2 separate regions of the Homo sapiens genome follow, and region 2 is linked to region 1. The links come from fine-mapping of genetic effects on gene expression. A gene starts in region 1. The other region holds a variant in brackets. All regions are shown on one strand. Distances are from middle to middle. Region 1 holds the start of SMIM35 (small integral membrane protein 35). Region 2 overlaps SMIM35 (small integral membrane protein 35).

Region 1 (5,379 bases):
AGGCTGGTTATCACTGGGGCCTCCAGAACAAACGAGAATCCTCAACCCTGCCCCTGTACAGAACCACAGCACAGACCCTCCTTGAACATGTGTGGAGTTCTGCTCTCCATGCCTGTAGGGTAATTGGGGCAGAGAGCACTAATTTTCACTTACTAAACTCCTCTATGTTTCAAGCACCAAGCCAGGCACATCACATGTGTCATCAATAATTCTCACCAACAACCCTGTGAATTAAGTCATATTCTCCCCATTTTACAGATGAGAAAACTGAGACTCAGAAAAATTTATTAACTTGCTCAAGACTTCATGGCTGGGAAGAGGCAGAGCTGGATTCAGGCCAGTGTCCCTGCCTCAGAGTTCAGGAGGAGCAGGATCAAGGGACAACCCCCTTCTGATCAAGGCAGCTGAGACCCCTCAAACTGCAAAGACCAACCTAGGGGACTATGAGCAAGTCTGTAAAATCATGCAAAGACCAGATGGGGCTCCTGGGGGCTTGCAAAGGTGCTGAAAATGTGCACGGTGCTGAGCAGGTGGCGCACCTTACAGAATCTTTCTCCCCATCATCTTGTGAAGTCGCTTTTATTGTACCCACATTCCAAAGAAGGAAACTGGGTCCAGGAGCTGTTTAGTGACTTGCTCAAAAGTTGTTCTACAGATGGAGGAGTCAGATCTTCTTCTTCTTTTTTTTTTTTTTTGAGACAGAGTCTAACACTGTTGCCCTGGCTGGAGTACAGTGGCAGGATCTTGGCTCACTGCAACCTCCGCCTCCCAGGTTCAAGCGATTCTCCTGCCTCAGCCTCCCGAGTAGCTGGGATTACAGGCACCTGCCACCACGCCCAGCTAATTTTTTGTATTTTTAGTAGAGATGGGGTTTCACTATGTTGGCCAGGCTGGTCTCAAACTCCTGGCTGGAGTCAGTCCCAATCAGTTCCTTTTCCCTCCCTGCCATTTCCCTCCCTCTTAAAGTTTAAAGGACAACTCAGGACAAGCAAAAGTGAGTACGATTCTTGAAAGATGGTATAAACTCTGTCTTTGAACCTTTTTAAATTAACGTCAGACTGCTCCATGGATGGCAGGTCCTCAGTTCAGGTAAATTGCAAGGTTGAGAGAACCCCTCTAAGCTTTAAAATCCATCAGCCCTTCCCAATGGCAAACCCATGAGGGTCCCTGCCAGGCTGAAAGGCTGAACTGTGTGGCGGGACCCCTTCTGGCCCTCTCGAGTCCCCTCCAGCCATTGTCCAGGCATTGTCCTCAGGTGTGCAAAGATGGTGGCACCTTCCTTCCTATCAGACCCTTCCAGGAGGGGAAGGTGGGCTCAGATGGACCCACCACTCTGGAACAGAGGGAAAGCTGAGCAAAGTAGAGCTGTTGAGAGTTCAGAAAGGTGGGAGAGAATGGGCTGCTTCCCCTAGGACAAAGAGAAGGATCGCAGAGGGATTCCTAAGCACTGCAGTAAACAGCAGCATCACCTGGAAGCAGGGCCCTCCAGTGGGAACCAGGTCTGTCTTCAGTTTAATTTAGCCCAAGGGGCATGTACAAATACCTCACTCCTGCCCTTCACATTGTCTCTGGGGAAAAAGCATAAGCGCTGTGCCTCAGTTTCTCCATTTGTGAAATAGGAATAGTTACATCTTCCCTGCCTCCCCAGCCCTATCTGAACCTAAGAGCTATGCCCGAACACAAAAGCTGATTCTTAAATGATGGGAGCTGAACAGCAGGCTGGCAGGGGATAATGGCAGGCTGCCTGACTCCTCCCTTCTGCCCCAGGCCCTGCCCTGGAGCCATTATGTGCTGAGATGGGGGATGAGGTGCTCGGCTCAAATTGCCAATAGGTCAGCACCTATGTGGTTTAGAACAAGGCAAAATGGTTTCTAATGTAGCAGCCAAGGCTGAGGTTAGACCCAAAGGAAAAAGTGCTGCTCTAATAATGACTCAACGCAAGGCAGTGTTTGTGAGGATGCTCCCTGAATTTCTGCGTGAGAGCTTAGATGCCCAGCGGCATATGGCCTGGGCTGGTGGCCGACCTGCCTAGAGACAGAGTAACAGGTGCGATCCCAGGATACTTGGAAGTCGGCATGATCAGTCATCTCTGAGGACCTCCCATGCACTCTGGGCTGCTGCATCACCACCAGGCTCATCTCAGGAAACTCACTCCCTCCTCTCCTGCCCCATGATCTTCCAGCCCTCAGTGACCCTCTCCTTACCTGTCATGGCTGAGACATCCAAGAGAGAGAGCCCTGTTGCCAGCGCAGCAAAGGCATCAAACTGCCTATTCCAGCTGCAAGTGGAGAGGACACAGCTGCTTGCCGTTGGTTTTGGGGAGGGATGCAGGTTCTGGGGTCAGAGAGCAGAGTGAGGCTCCCTCAGAGGAGCACTGTGGCCGGGCCCCACTCTGCAAGCTGACGGCAAGCACCTCTGGGTCTCTTGGCTTACCCGAAGAACTTTCCCCACCCCCTCCCTTGGGTTTTCCCCACTGCTTATTACTGGCCTCAGCAACCTAACTGCCACCTGCCCAAGCCTCAAAGGACCTGTTTATCCCATCACCTAGCAACAGCACCATCTCTGGCTCTAGGTTTTCCTATGAGACCATGGGAAGCCAGGGCCTTGGACTCCAGGGAAGACTGAAGCTGTCACCCTCTTTTGTGTGCCCCTGCTTTTCTCTCTTTGTCCACACTCCAGTCATTCCAGCTCTGCCCTTACTGACTTCTTTCCAGAGCAAGTCAATGCCAAGTCAGCATTGCAGAGAGGAAGAGAGAAATCAGGCCCCAGGGACAGGATGCTTGGCAAGGGAGGCAGACAGGAGCTGGCCGAGCTTTCTGTTCCTTTGGCCTCCTTGAGCTGCCGCCTCTTCTTCCTCTCCTTATTAGCCTGGTGGACTTGCCTGTTTCATTATGAGGTTATTAACTCTTTCATCCCATCTCTGAAGGGCAGTTCCCAATTACCCAAAGGGATCTTGAGGTTCAGAGACATTGAGGAGTGTGCCCAAAGCCACACAGCAAGTCAGAAGACAAGGCAAGATGAGAACTCATACTCTCCAGGCTGGTGGCTTCTCTGCAGCACACTTTGTGGCTTCTCTGCAGCCACTTAAGCTTCACTCCATTTAAAAACAAGAGCTGCCTTGTATCTGGGTTCATTCTCTCTGAGCTGGAAAGGAAGTTGACCTTAAGATGTCTGTTTGCTTTTTGGAGCTGAGCTAAGCCCAACCAGGAGGTTCCCCATGATCTAAAACAGTGGTAGGGGTGGGGAATAGGAATAAAGGAAGAAGAGGCAGGTGAGAAAGGTGGGAACTTATGGAAGAAAGGGAAGAACAAATGCTAATATCAATAAAGCCCCTCCTGGGAACCAAGCCCTGCAATAGGCCCCTTTCCCAACATGCTCTTTGAGGTCTCTTGACCGCATTCATGGATGATATGGCAGAGCCCAGAACTGAGCAAAGTCACTCTACCTTCACACCGAGGAAGAGCTGGAGAGATGCTGGGGGCAATCTCTGCATGATGACTGCATGCTGGTTATATCCAACAAGGCTGCATTGCAAGGGAGGAGTGATTCAAAAGGACCCAGCACCAGCTAATGACTGTTACCGAAATGAGTTCCTGAAACCATGGGGAAATGAAATCAACAGTCCACCAAGTCCAGAAACCCGGCCCAAAGGGCTAGATCTGTTCCTTACTTGCTCCGAAGCCATAGCAGCTGCCTTTTCTGTAAAATGGGGACAATTTCTCAGGGTTGTTCCATGGATTATATAGGACAGCATTTATGAAAGAAAGACATCGTAAATTATATAATAATACTCAACTGCAATAACTAATGGTTCTGCCTCCATATTTGGGTCTTGGATTAATGTCTTCCTCTGCCGGTGACAAACCGAGAAGCAGGAAAAGAAGATTCTCTGAGTTGATCAGGCAATGGCAGGTTTTCCAGTGATTGAACACCCACCCACTTCCACCTCCCCACCTCACCCGCTACCTGGGCCCTGGGGGCCTGGGCATTCTTGCCCTTCCACTGTACTGCACACAGCAGGAGCTTCATTCCCGGATGAGCCCCAGGTCAGACACTGGCTGGGCTGGACCCATGAGTCAGGGCTCTGCGGCAGACTGAATCAACAGAGAAGACAGGCCTGGCCCAGCCAGTGGCCCAAACAGAAAGGGAAAGGCCAATGCCTTTGCTTGGTCTGGGCTGGGCCGGGGCTGTAACAGTTGTAGGCAGAAGCTGAGTTCAAGCTGGGGGTAAATAAATACATCTCCAGCAAAGCAGAAGGAAGCACATGTGTTGTTTGGTGACCTCTCAACTTCCTCCTTCCCTCTATTAACTCCAGGTTAAGACAATTCTATCCGACCTCTGTTTTCTCATCTGAAAATAAGGAAGTTGCCTTGTTTCAGCTTTGCATCTTCTGATCATGGCGGGGACCCACCATGGTGATGGGGTCTGGCTGGATCTCTGAATTTTACCTGGTACCCACATCTCTCAGACCCATTCTCTCCTTTCCTTAGCTCAGGATTGTTGCTTCTGGGCTCAGAGGAGATGCAGCTGGCCATAAGTCCCTATTTCTATCCTGCTCAGGGATGTCATCGACATTGATGGCCCCCAGTTGACACTCACAGGCCTAAAATGCACCTACCTCCCTGCCCATGAGCCCCAGTACTCGTGACCTTCTGCAGCTCCTCTTCCAAAGGTGTATCTGTCCATCAGCTCTGACCTGTCTGTGTCACAGATATTTGCCAAAGAGCTTCAAGAAAAGCCAAAGAATGAGCTACTCATGGGGAAACTCAGGCAGCACAACAGTAAGGGCAGAGCATGGTGAGGACATGAGTTTGACCTCCTCAAGCCACTCAGCATAGCCAGGTGATGGCTTTTTTATGTTTTCCTTGAGCCTTGGGTGCATAGCATTGGGGGAACTAGAATCCTTGCTTCATGACTTTTTTCACTATTGGTCCATGCAGGGCCCATTTGTAACTTGCTAGTTAGTTGGATTTAACAATGTAATAAGCCTCCATAAACCCATCATCCCCAACAAAAGCTGGACTTAATAGTAACCTACATCTAACCATGAGGTTCCCACTCCTGCACACACATATCCATCCCTCTCCTGAGGTGGGTAGAGCAAGTGTCTTTCGTTTATTAATTCGACAAATATTGGCTATACATATTTGATAGGCAGGGACTGTACTACAAGCTCCCTGCCCAAGTAAGTTCTTCCCAAACCCCATATTCATCATTCCCTTGCTTCTCTATAGAAAAGATTCTGTGCTATATGTAATCTTTTGGGACTAAGTTTTTCCCTTAATATTACATTCTAATATCATCCTTATTATTATTTTGAGATGGAGTGTTGCTCTGTCCCCCAGGCTGGAGTGCTGTGGCACCATCTCACTCACTGCA
Region 2 (5,379 bases), 66 kb before region 1:
CCAAGTAAATACCCTCCCAAATTTGGTGTTTATCTCTGCTGTACACCTTTTTTATACCATTACTTCATATTTTTAACAAATTCTATATATCTATGTAGATATAGAGATATATAGCATTGTTTTACATGTTTTCAAACTTTATGAAAATTATGTTAGGACCACTTCCACTTCTGGCCATGGTGGAATAATAGGGACCAGGTTTACTTTCCTACTTTCATAACTAGAAAACCAACAAACCATCTAAAACAATGGGCAAAGGTAGTACAGAATAGTGATCCCTGAAGGAAGGAAGTAAAATGAAGAGCTCTCTAGGATTGCCTGGCTTATTGCCTGGGTGAGTTCCCCGAGTTCCAGCACAGGAGGGAAAACCCAGAAAGAGCCCAGCAGTCAAATTGAGGAGTCAGAATTTAAGTTCAGGGAAGCCCAGGAAGCTAGAATTTACGGACAAAATACCAGAGAGAAGGGAGCTGGACAGAGACAAGGACTCTCAGAGATCTGCAAAGGGGTCCCCCAAAGTCTTTGGCTGTGGTTTGCCTCTTAAGTTTGCCTATAGTGTCTTTTTTGAGCAGAATTTTAACTAATATTTTAATCAAATTTATCTATTTGTGCTTTTTAAAAATCTTATTTAAGACATCCATCTCTCCTCCGAGACATACTCCTTATTTTTTTTCTAGAAGTTTTAACGTTTTGTTTTTTACAGTTTCGGACTTTAATCAACCTGGAATTCATTTTTGTATACATTATCTCCATAATTTTTGTATGGAAATTAATTTTCCATCCTTTTCCCCTTCATTGCTGCTGCTTTCATATATCAAGTTAAACAGATGTGCCTGCTTCTTTTTCTGGGCTTTCAACTGTATTCTATTGGTCTACGTGTCTGTCACTGGACACTAGACATGTAATGACAAACACTGCTACATTATCTTAATTACTATGGTCTCATAATAAATCTCGGCTGGGCATGGTGTCTCACGCCTGTAATCCCAGCATTTGGGAGGCCAAGGTTGTCGGATCAACTGAGGTCAGGAGTTCAAGACGACCAGCCTGGTCAACATGGTGAAACCCCATCTCTACTAAAAATACAAAAATTAGCCAGGTGTGGTAGCGGGCAAAGGTAATCCCAGCTACTCAGGAGGCTAAGGCAGGAGAATTACTTGAACCCAGGCAGCAGAGGTTGCAGTGAGCCAAGATCGCACTAGTGCACTCCAGCCTGGGTGAGAGAGCGAGACTCCATCATAACTAACTGACTAAATAAATAAATATATAAATAAATCTTGATAGCTGGTAAAATAAACGCTCCACTCTATCCTCCCTCATAAGCATGTTAGTTATTCTGAGTACTTTTCTCTTTCTTGTGAATTTGGGAATTCGTTTTTCAAGGTCAGTGAAAATCTCTATTAGAATTTGATTGAGATAACAGTAAATGTATAGGTTTATTTGGATAAAACTTATATATTTGAGATACTGAGTCTACAAACTTACAAGTATGGCAAATGTTTTCATTTATTTTGGGTCATCTTTTATAGACTGTCATATGTTTTATAATTTGTCCCTTAAAGGTTTGGTACTCTTCTTGCTAGATTTATTCCTCAGTACTTTATAATGTTGTTGTAAGTGTGAACAGGAGCTTGTTTTGTGTATATTGGTTTTCCATGTAATAGTGTTGCTGAATTCTCTCATTCTAATCATTTTCTTCTGGTCTTCCTTGGATATGTAGACTATTATATTGTCCGCAAATAAAGGCCATTTGCTTTCTTACTTTCTGTTCTTATATGTCTCAGTTTATTTTTCTTGTCTAATTGTATTGGTTAGAACTTCCAGTATAATGTACCTTGATATATGTATTTGATGCTCTAAATTTACCCCTAAGCATCACTTTAGCTTCATTTTATAAGACTTGATACGTAATATTTTTACCTTTGTCTGATCTAAATGTTTTTTAATTTCCACTGGGATATCTTCTTTAACCCTTGAGGTATTTGGCAGTGCGTTTTTAGTTTCCAAATTCACAGGGTAAGGTTTTTTTTTTTACTATTTATTAAGATGGACATGAGTTATAGAATTATGGCTGGTATAAGAAAAGAGTAACAGTTAATTTAATTTTAATACTAGCTCAATGTTTTCATCTAACTCATGAAGTCAAAGTAAAGCTTTTAGAAGCTTACTCTGTAGGAGGTAAAACATTGGAAATTATTGTGAATGTTACTGAAAATTCAGTTTAAAAGTTTGACATTAACAATAAAATTGTTTTTTCTTTTTACTTACTTTTGTCACTCTAAACTTCAGTCTTAGATATTTTTTTCTGGGCCTATCTTCTAGCTGACTAATTCTTTCTTCAGCTGTGTCTAATCTGCTATTAATCATCCTTAGTGTTTTAATTTGTTATGGTGTTTTTCATTTCCATAATTTTAACTTAATTCTTTTTATAATTTCCAATTATTTATTAAATTTTTCCGTTATGTCTAATTTTATATCATTTGCTATACATCTTTCCTATAGTTTTTATTCATTATTCTAGGGTTTATAAAATGTATCTTTAACTTATCACAGTCACATATAAAAGGGAAAATAAAGATATACCATATAAAAACTAATCAAAGGAAAGCTGAAGTGGCTCT[G/A]TGGATATCAGACAAAAACGATTTTAAAACAAGAAATATTACCAAGGATGAAGAAGGACATTTCATAATGATAAGAGGGACAACTCATCAAGAGGACATTTCATTATATAGCTTTAAAATATAAAAAGAAAAAATGAGTAGAACTGAAAGACAAACTTTAAAAATTCATAATTATTATTAGAGAATTCAACTCTTCTCTCTCAGCAATTGATAGAACAGGAAATCAGCTAAGGATATAGAGGACACAAACAACACTGCCAGCTAACTTGACCTTGTAGACATTTACAGAACACTACATCCAACATCTGGGGAATACACATTGTTCTCAAGTATATATGGAGCATTCATCAAGACAGATCATATGCTAAACCATAAAACAATAAGTCTTTTTTTTTTTTTTTTTTTTGAGATGGAGATGGAGTTTTGCTCTGTCACCAGGCTGGAGTGCAGTGGTGCAATCTCAGCTCACAACAACCTCCACCTCCCTGGTTCAAGTGAGGTTCAAGTGATTCTCCTGCCTCAGCCTCCCGAGTAGCTGGGACTACAGGTGCCTGCCACCATGCCCAGATAATTTTTGTAATTTTAGTAGAGACAGGGTTTCACCATGTTGGCCAGGATGGTCTTGATCTCTTGACCTCATGATCCGCCTGCCTTGGCCTCCCAAAGTGCTGGGATTACAGGCGTGAGCCACCGCCCCTGGCCCAACAATAAGTCTTAGTAAGTAAATCTCAATAAATTTTTAAAAGTTAAAATAATATACAATATGTTCCCTGACCACAGAATTATATTGGAAAATAAAGACAAAAAGATATCTGGAAAACATCCCAATATTTGGAAATTAAACAACACACTTCTAAAAACATCCTGGGTAAAAGAAGATATCACAAGGGAAATTAGAAAATACTTAGATCTGAATGATATTGAAAACACAACATAGCAAAAATGTAAGTTGAGGAGACAGTCCAAGGCAGCTAAAGTTCACAAGACAGAGGAAAGAGCTACATCAGGTAAAGAATCCAGCTATGTGCAGAGGGACCCCCTCAAGTATTCAATAAGTAATGAGTGCCTGTGTATAAAGGAGCTACCTGAGGCCAGAGAATCATCTGAAAGCATTCGTGGGAAACAGTGTCTAGCATTCAAATAGGGCTAGAAGCAGGGCCTATTCCCATAAACCAGACTAGAAAAACTCGTAATTCACAGGGTATTGGATAGGGAACTCAGGAAGTTCTTGCCTTAGTGGTGAGAATAATTAGCCTTAGACTGTTCAGCCTAAGGCTAATTATTTCCACTACACTGGGTCTTGGTTTTATGATTTGTCTACTGCTCCGAACCCATCTAACAAATCATAAAACCAAGACCCAAAAAGGTCAAACTGCTTCCAACTAACTTAACTGCTTCCCAATATATTTATAGGCAAACAAAAATATCTACCACTCAGCAAAGTAAAATTCACAATATCCTCATTCAGTCAAATATTACCAGGCACTCAGAGAGGCAGAGCAAAATGACCCATAATGAACAGAACAACCAACAGAGCACAGGCCTTGGAATCCTGCAGCCTGGGTCTGAATCCTATTCACTCATCAGTCTGAGGCCTTCAGCAAGTTATTTAACCACCAAAAGCCTCAATTTCATGTGTGTGTGAAAAAGAGGGAGAGGGAGAAAGAGAGATTCAATAAGTCTCAAATTATAAAAGACCCTTTTTTTCTATTTTATTATTATTATACTTTAAGTTTTAGGGTACATGTGCACAATGTGCAGATTAGTTACATATGTATACATGTGCCATACTGGTGTGCTGCACCCATTAACTCGTCAGTTAGCATTAGGTATATCTCCTAATGCTATCCCTCCACCCTCCCCCCACCCCACAACAGTCCCCAGAGTGTGATGTTCCCCTTCTTGTGTAAAAGACCCCATTTTTTAAGACCCAAATTATTTCCAGGGATGAAAACTACAACATCTGAGATGAAAATTACATTGAATGGAATTAACAGCACACTAGGCATCACAGAAGAAAAAAGTAGTGCACTTGAAGGCATAGCAATAGGAACTATCCAAGGTGAGACATAGAGGGGAAAAAAAGTAATAAAACAAATGAAAAAGCTGGGCGTGGTGGCTCACGCCTGTAATCCCAGCACTTTGGGAGGCCAAGGTGGATGGATCACTTGAGGTCAGGAGTTCCAGACGAGCCTGGCCAAAATAGTGAAACACCATCTCTACCAAAAATATAAAAAAATTAGCCAGGTGTGGTGGCGTGTGCCTGTAATACCAGCAACTCGGGAGGCTGAGGAAGGAGAATGCTTGAACCTGGGTGGTGGAGGTTGCACTGCACTTCAGCCTGGGTGATAGAGTGAGATGCCTTCTCCAAAAAAAAAAAAGAAAGAAAGAAAGAAAAGAGTATTAGTGAGGTGCAGGACAACTTCAAGCCACCTAATATATGTGTAATTAGATTCCCTGAAGGAGAAAACGAGGGAAAACAGAAAAAAAAATTTTGATGAGATATGGCCAACAATTTTCCAATTTTGAAGAACCTGTCAAGTTATTTGTTCAAACAAGACATTTCTTTTCCTATGAGGAATTCTGGTGCCCATGGTTGATATCATAACTCTTTTTTTATTACATCAAGGAAGGCCTAAACTATCCTTAGGAAGAAATAGACTACATTTCCTTTCAACCGACCCTCCGTAAGAATCATTCTTTTTAACTAAACCATATGTATAGGTTGGAAAATATACAGGTCAAGGGTATGGTGTCTAGT

Evidence for each region. PIP is the estimated chance that this variant, and not a neighbour inherited with it, causes the effect. A credible set is the group of variants that fine-mapping cannot tell apart.
Region 2: its variant is the best candidate, but not a certain one, in a credible set for the expression of SMIM35 in whole blood (INTERVAL, PIP 0.60).

Annotation. Positions count from the first base shown.
Region 1 is chr11:118,084,547-118,089,925 of GRCh38, forward strand. SMIM35 (small integral membrane protein 35) reads right to left here and starts at 2,417. Exons shown (of 5, transcript NM_001394165.1): 1 at 2,205-2,417. The coding sequence starts at 2,211. The region is part of intron 1 of TMPRSS4 (transmembrane serine protease 4); the gene reads left to right.
Region 2 is chr11:118,019,029-118,024,407 of GRCh38, forward strand. The region is part of intron 1 of SMIM35 (small integral membrane protein 35); the gene reads right to left. Among named protein-coding and RNA genes, the nearest start is that of IL10RA, 35 kb to the left of the region's middle. The variant G/A (reference allele first, on the strand shown) is at 2,619.